2 linked regions of the Homo sapiens genome follow. Changing the gene in region 2 together with the main gene of any one other region gives a genetic interaction. Each region holds a gene or a part of one and is shown on either strand. Other genes may lie near its edges. The genes, in order: METAP2 and PDCD7.

What was found.
Region 1: changes in PDCD7 (region 2) and METAP2 together harm fitness more than expected from each alone (negative genetic interaction), as found in Homo sapiens cells (one large-scale study listed by BioGRID).

Annotation. Positions count from the first base shown.
Region 1 is NC_000012.12:95,494,339-95,498,162, reverse strand, and holds part of METAP2 (methionine aminopeptidase 2), read right to left. Parts: intron 3,207-3,824; coding exon 3,025-3,206; intron 2,160-3,024; coding exon 2,065-2,159; intron 1-2,064. UniProt on the Homo sapiens protein: Cotranslationally removes the N-terminal methionine from nascent proteins. The N-terminal methionine is often cleaved when the second residue in the primary sequence is small and uncharged (Met-Ala-, Cys, Gly, Pro, Ser, Thr, or Val).
Region 2 is NC_000015.10:65,120,310-65,124,098, forward strand, and holds part of PDCD7 (programmed cell death protein 7), read right to left. Parts: intron 1-3,789. UniProt on the Homo sapiens protein: Promotes apoptosis when overexpressed.

The sequences.
Region 1 (3,824 bases), on a different chromosome or scaffold from region 2:
CCCCAATCTCTACTGTTTTTTTTTTTTTTTGAGATGGAGTCTCGCTCAGTCGCCCAGGCTGGAGTGCAGTGGGGCGATCTCGGCTCACTGCAAGCTCCGCCTCCCAGGTTCACGCCATTCTCCTGCCTCAGCCTCCTCAGTAGCTGGGACCACAGGCGCCCGCCACCACACCCAGCTATTTTTTTTTTTTGGTATTTTTAGTAGAGACGGGGTTTCACCATGTTAGCCAGGATGGTCTCCATCTCCTGACTTCGTGATCCACCCGCCTTGGCCTCTCAAAGTGCTGGGATTACAGGCATGAGCCACCACATCTGGCCTACATTTTTTAATTAAAAAATAAATAAATAAAAATGGGCAAAAAACTTGAATAGACATTTCTCCAAAGATTAAAAACAAAAAACAAACAAAAACTACCCAGAAAATAGTGTTGGCAAGGAAATGGAAAAATTGGAGCCTTTCCTTGCATACTGTTGGTGGGAATGAAAATGGTACAGCCACTGTGGAAAGTAGTAGAGAAGATACTCAAAAAGTTTAAAAAGATATAATTACCAGATGATTCCCAAATCCACTTCTGGGTATATACCCAAGAATTGAAAACAGACCTTGAAGAGGTATCTATACACCCGTATTCATAGCAGCAATATTCACAATAGCTAAAACATCGGAGCAATCCAAGTGTCTATCAGTGGATGAATGGATAAGCAAAAATGTGGTATATACACACAATAGATTATTTAGCCTTAAGGAAGTAAATTCTGACACATGCTACAACATAGGTGAACCTTGAGTACATTGTGCTAAGTGAAATAAACCAGTCACAAAACAACAAACACTATATGAGGTACTTACAGCAGTAAAAATCATATATAGTAGAATGGTGGTTGCCAGGGTAGGGGGAGAAGAGGAAAATGGGAGTTACTGTTTAATGAGTATAGAGTTTCAGTTTTATAACATGAAGAGTAAACAGAGAAGAATGGTGATAATGGCTGCACAATATTATGAATGTACTTAATACCAATGAACAACATACTTAAAAATGGCCAGGCGCGGTGAATCACGCCTGTAATCCCAGCACTTTGGGAGGCCAAGGCGGGAGGATCACTTGAGATCAGGAGTTTGAGACCAGCCTGGCCAGCATGGTGAAACCCCATCTCTACTAGAAACATAAAAATCAGCCGGGAGTGGTTGTGCGTGCCTGTAATCCCAGCAACTCGGGAGGCTGAGGCAGGAGTATCACTTGAGACCAGGAGGCAGAAGATGCAGTGAGTCGAGATCGTGCCACTGCACTCCAGCCTGGGCAACAGAGTAAGACTCCATCTCAAAAAAAAAAAAAAAAAAAAAGAAAGAAAAAGTTAATATGGTAAATTTTATGTAATGTCTATTTTAACTGCACCTCCCTCCAAAAAAAAAAAAAATTTGAGTGGGTGGGGAAAAGCTGGGCTGTACCAGAGTTTGGTGGACAGAGAGGGATGAATCAGTTGAGCACAGAAGATTTTGGTGGCTATGAAAATACTCTGTATGATACTATAATGGTAGATGCGTGTCATTATATATTTGTCAAACCCCTTATGTATATTACTAAGAATGAACCCTAATGTTAACTATGAACTTTGAATAATTGTGATGTGGTCAATGCTAGTTCAAATGATTTTAACAAATATACCTATGTGGTGGGGATGCTGACAATGGAGGAAATTGGGGAGGGGTGGGTATAAGGGAAATCTCTGTACTTTCTGCTCAATTTTATTATGAACCTAAAATTGTTCTAAAAAAGAACCACAAAAAAACCACTGCCAACTGACAGGCAAAAATAGATCCAAACTCTGTTTTAATAAATTTTAGCAAAGTTCAAGGGAAACAAACAAACAAACAAAAAAACAACCTTTGGTACACAATCATACACTTACCCGCTTAAAACCATAAGGGAAATGGATCAATTTTATTCCTCTTAATTACCCAAAGCCCTTAAACAGGCCTTAAAAGTGCTTAAATGCTGTTAAGTGTTTAAAAGACCTTAAAGTGCTCAAAATATTGGGAATGAAATGGTGCTTACAGTTCACATACCTTTATTCCAGTGTTAGTAGCATCTTTTACAGCTTTTAATAACGTATCATATTTGGGATTAAAAGTGACAGTAAAAGCACAGTCAATAATCCTACCTGAAAGAGAAAATTCCTCTTTTAATTTTACTTATCAGCTAGTCAATTTATCTACTTTACAGCATTTAATCTATTAATCTTGCTAGTTTAACAGAAAAATAGAATGAAGGCTCAAATGAAGGCTGCACTCCAAATACCCAAAGATCATTCATAATCAAAGAGACAAAATGTAGAAGTATATAAAGGATTCAGAATAGAAAGAATTACAAGGTTAGTATATATTACCCCAAGACAGCACCAGTTCAGTGCTCACCCTGGCAGTTATACAAACATATAAACAGAAACAAAATGAATACAAGAAAAGACTAGGGAAATGAGAAATAGTAACGCAGGGCAGAGAAAGTATACAGGGCTCTGAATATACTTTTACTTTTCCAAGGTAGTGAAACCTTAGGCAAGTATTTATTCTAAGCTTGCTTTCTCACTTGTAAGTAAGATAACAAGGTGCTTACCTAACCAGGTTTTGGAGAGAATTCAGAAAAGCAAACATGTATATTAAGGCTGATAAACTTAAGTATTTTAAATAAATGTTATTATTTGAATAAAAGAGATATGAAACAATGACCTAAAGAAAGGTAGGATAATGTCTTTCATGCCTTGATACAAAGGGTAATAAACCTCAACTACCCAACAGTTTTCATTTTATTCTACTTAGTAGTATGCTTTCAAGTAAATGTCACAACTGCCTCTCTCTCCTATAAGTGCACTAAAATTTTTTTAAAAATCTGCCTCAACACACCTTTCCTAATGAAATGAGGAAGCAAGAACAAAATTTGGGAGTTCAGTATTTATCACTCCATTTAACAGAGACAAAAACTAGTTTTTCAGGAGGAGGCTGGGGTAGGAATTTTCTGCAAGAATTTACCACTTATATGTGTTCCAAAGTCTATTTTACAGATGTCATCATACTGTAATACTGTTGTGTCACCGGCATTGGGAGTATAATGGGCAGCACAATTATTGAGAGAACATCCAGTAGGAAATGCCAGGCCTGCATTTAATCCATTCTCTTTTATTAACTTGCGTGAACAGTCTTCCAACTTTTCACTAAAACAAAAAAGCAAAGGGAACTTGTTTACTTTTACATTCTTACTTTTATATATTAATACCATATAGTTCATCAAGTCCAGAAAGTTTACTAAAAACCTTAAATACCTTCTGGGAATGATCTGAGCACTTTCTGAATATAAATAAATAACAGTTCTCTGATGCTATGAAAATAGCATATCTTTAGAAGACAAGGAATTTGATTCTGCTAGAAAGTCAGAGAAACACAATCCACTTTTAACTAAATTTACTAGAAAATAAGAGTCTAACTTAGACCAATTTAAATGCTGATCTTATTTGTTCATGTTGTATATTTTTTAAATTGTAGGAATCAGAGAATTACATGTTATACTAACCATTTATCAAAAGGAAAAACTAGAGAATAATTACTTGAATTGGTTTTGTTACTGTATTATCATCATGTTCTGTATTTGGGCAATTGCTCCAATACTTTCTTATTTCTTAGTATGACTTGTTAGATAGCAAAATAACAGATTTCCAGATAGAAAATAACAATCAGTAATGACTACATGTGCACACAAAAGGGTGGCTGAGGTGCCAATGTGTACTCCTCTTCATGGTTTTCTCATAGTGACACTAAAATAATCTAGAAGGCAT
Region 2 (3,789 bases):
TCTAGCCAATTTTTTTTTTATTTTTGTAGAGACAGGGTATCCCTGTGTTTCTCAAGCTGGTCTTAAACTCCTGGTCAAGCAATCCCCCTGCCTTGGCCTCCCTAAGTGCTGGGATTACAGGCATGAGCCACTGTGCCTGGCCCTACCTACTAATTTGTAAATTTTTTGTATGAGGTCTCACGAGGTCAGGAGATTGAGAACATCCTGGCTAACACGGTGAAACCCCGTCTCTACTAAAAATACAAAAAATTAGCCAGGCATGGTGGCAGGTACCTGTAGTCCCAGCTACTCGGGAGGCTGAGACAGGAGAATGGCGTGAACCTGGGAGGTGGAGCTTGCAGTGAGCGGAGATCACACCACTGCACTCCAGCCTGGGCAACAGAGTGAGACTCCGTCTCCAAAAAAAAAGACCAAAACTTTTTTGTATGAGGTCTTGCTATGTTGCCCAGGCTAATCTCTAACTCCTGGCCTCAAGCAATCCTACCAGCTTGGCTTCCCAAAGTGAGCCACTGCATCCAGCCCAAATGGCCTTTTACACACGTTTTCTTATCCCAAAATTTGTGTTATAATGAGGAAGTTTAAAAGTCCTAGCTATAGTATGTATCGGTTAAAATTTAGAAATTTTACCCAATCTTTTAAGGCTCAATTTGATGTTTCTGAGTATTCAATTACTCTGACCCTACCCTGACTTTCTCAACTCCTCCCTCTGGATCATCCACACCACTTAACCTCTGACTTTCTTTCTTTTTTTTTTTTTTTTTTTGAGATGGAGTTTCATTCTTGTTGCCCAGGCTGGAGGGCAATGGTGCGATCTCAGCTCACTGCAAACTCCACGCATCCCGGGTTCAAGCGATTCTCCTGACTCAGCCTCCTGAGTAGCTGGGATTACAGGCATGCACCAACACACCCGGCTAATTTTTGTATTTTTAGTAGATGTTTCTCCATGTTGGTCAGGCTGGTCTCGAACTCCTGACCTCAGGTGATCCACCCACCTTGGCCTCCCAAAGTGCTGGGATTACAGGCGTGAACCACCATACCTGGCTTCGACTTTGTTTATTTCTAATGGTCTTGATCCTCCACTTGAAACAGTGAGCTCACTAAAGGGAGGAACTTGTCTTAACTTCATTGTTTGTGAAATTCCCTTAGCATCAACTCCCAGATCTAATTAATAAACAATTCTTCCTCTGACTGAGTGTGAATTTTGGGAGTGCACACTTGGATGGTGAGGAAGATACACTTAAAACAACCACACTGACCTTGCAGTCTGCTGCTGACAGTAGGCTGACCAACTGTTTTGGTTTGCCTGCATGTAGCACTGAAAGCCCCAAGTCCCAGTAAAACTGGGATGGTTATTATCCTGATTTAACTATGAGGTCAGCTAACAGTATAGCCAACATATCTAAAGCCACAGTGGAGAAAATAGTCAGGTTATTAGGTGATATCAAAGAATTACTGCTAATTTTTTTGGTGTGACAATGGTATCATAGTTGATGATGAGTGTTTATGTATTCTATTTTTGTGCATGTGTGAAATGTTTCATAAAGTTTCATAAGAAAAAAAGATTTTAACTTAATGAATATTTGAGTGGACTGCAATTGTGCACTCACTACCATAATGGCCCTGTAATACAAAAGCTTCCAGGTGAATCAATGTAGAGTGATGTGGATGTGATCTATCCTGTCAGTCCTTGAAGATTTTAAAGGAAAATATGTTACCCAAGCATTTTAGCAATACCAGATACAGGGCCAAGCGTGGTGGCTCACACCTGTAAACCTAGCACTTTGGGAGACTGAGGCAGGCAGGTTGCCTGAGCTCAGGAGTTCAAGACCAGCCTGGCCAACATGGTGAAACCCCATATCCACTAAAAATACAAAAAATTAGCCGAGCATGGTGGCGTGCGCCTGTAGTTCCAACTACTCAGGAGGCTAAGCCAGGAGAATCGCTTGAACCCAGGAGGTGGAGGCTGCAGTGAGCCAAGATCATGCCACTGCACTCTGGCTTGGGTGACAGAGCAAGACTCTTATCTCCAAAAAAATAAATTTAAAAAAAAAGAATACCAGATACAAGAAAGAAAAAAAAAATCCTAATCCCATTACCATAATCAACCATTTTATACTTTCTCACATTCTCTTCAGGTCTTTTTGTCCATGTATTAGCAACTTCATATAGTTCAACGTTACATGTATGTAATTTCCACTTCTCCCTGTTGATTCTGTACGTTCTTCTCCAATCTTCATAATTATTTAATGGCTGTATCCTATTTCATCAAATCAATACACTAGAATATACTTATCAAGTTCCCTACTCCTGGACACCTAAGCTATTCCAAATGTCCTGTTATTATATTGTGATACAATGAATATTCTTGGGCATGTTACTTTTTTCCTTCCTAGGGATTTCTATCAGAAAAATTCTTGGCCGGGCAGGGTGGCTCCTGTAATTCCAACACTTTGGGAGGCTGAGACGGGTGGATCACGAGGTCAGGAGTTTGAGACCAGCCTGGCCAACATGGTGAAACCCTGTCTCTACTAAAAATACAAAAATTAGCCGGGCGTGGTGGCAGGTGCCTGTAATCCCAGCTACTCAGGAGGCTGAGGCAGGAGAATCGCTTGAAACCAGAAAGCGGGGCTTACAGTGAGCCGAGATCGCACCACGGCACTCCAGCCTGGGCAACAAGAGTGAAACTCTGTCTCAAAAAAAAAAAAAGAAAGAAAAATTCTCAAAAATGGAAATGTTTGTGAATACTTTCAAGACTAACAAACTGTGTTCTAAACTGCTTCCTAAAAAAGCTATATATTTGCTCAGTTACCAAACACTTGACACAGAGAAGGTAATTAATAGATACTTCTTCAATGAATGAATGATTTTCAACAAGGTTTTTTTGTTTGTTTTGTTTTGAGACGGAGTCTCGCTCTGTCACCAGGCTGGAGTACAGTGGCGCGATCTCACCTCACTGTAACCTCTGATTCCTGGGTTCAAGCGATTCTCCTGCCTCAGCCTCCCGAGTAGCTGGGATTACAGGCATGTGCCACCATTCCCAGCTAATTTCTGTATTTTTAGTAGAGACAGTGTTTCACCATGTTGGCCAGGATAATCTTGATCTCCTGACCTCATGATCCTCCCACCTCGGCCTCCCAAAGTGCTGGGATTACAGGCATGAGCCACCATGCCCGGCCCTTCAACAGGGTTTTAACAATTTATGCTGCAACTTGTGTTATACAATAGTGCCAGCTTTGAGCACTAAATTTTCAGTTTGGGCTGATAAATGGCATAAATAATGGTTTCTCAAGGTTAGTAGTTCTGTTTCTTGTAAAGTTGTAATTTGGAGGTAGGATTCTTTCCTCCTTCAACCACTACAGCTAAGTGGTTGTGGAACTCACTCTCAAGGCTAACATTTCTCTAGATGATTTTCTCCTAACTGCTTTGCTTCTACAGGTTTCCATTCACTCATTCTCAACTACAGAAACACTACAACTCAAATTTATCTTCTACTAAGTTGCCAGGCCAGTGTTTTTCAAGTATACACAAAATTCTTATACACTGACAAATTTAAGCTGTCACTCTGTTTTATAATAATCTAACGGTTTTGTTTCATTTCTTTACCTTTACAGGTAAATATTTTAGATTTTGTAAGCCATACAGTCTCTGTTGCAACTACTAAAATCTGTCTATGGCGAAATACACAGATACTCCATCATCCTATGTTAGCCTAAAGACCCCATGAAGAGATGTAGGCTGCTGAGCCTGGGCCACCAACCCACATCTCTCTCGGCCCCTCACTGATCACTC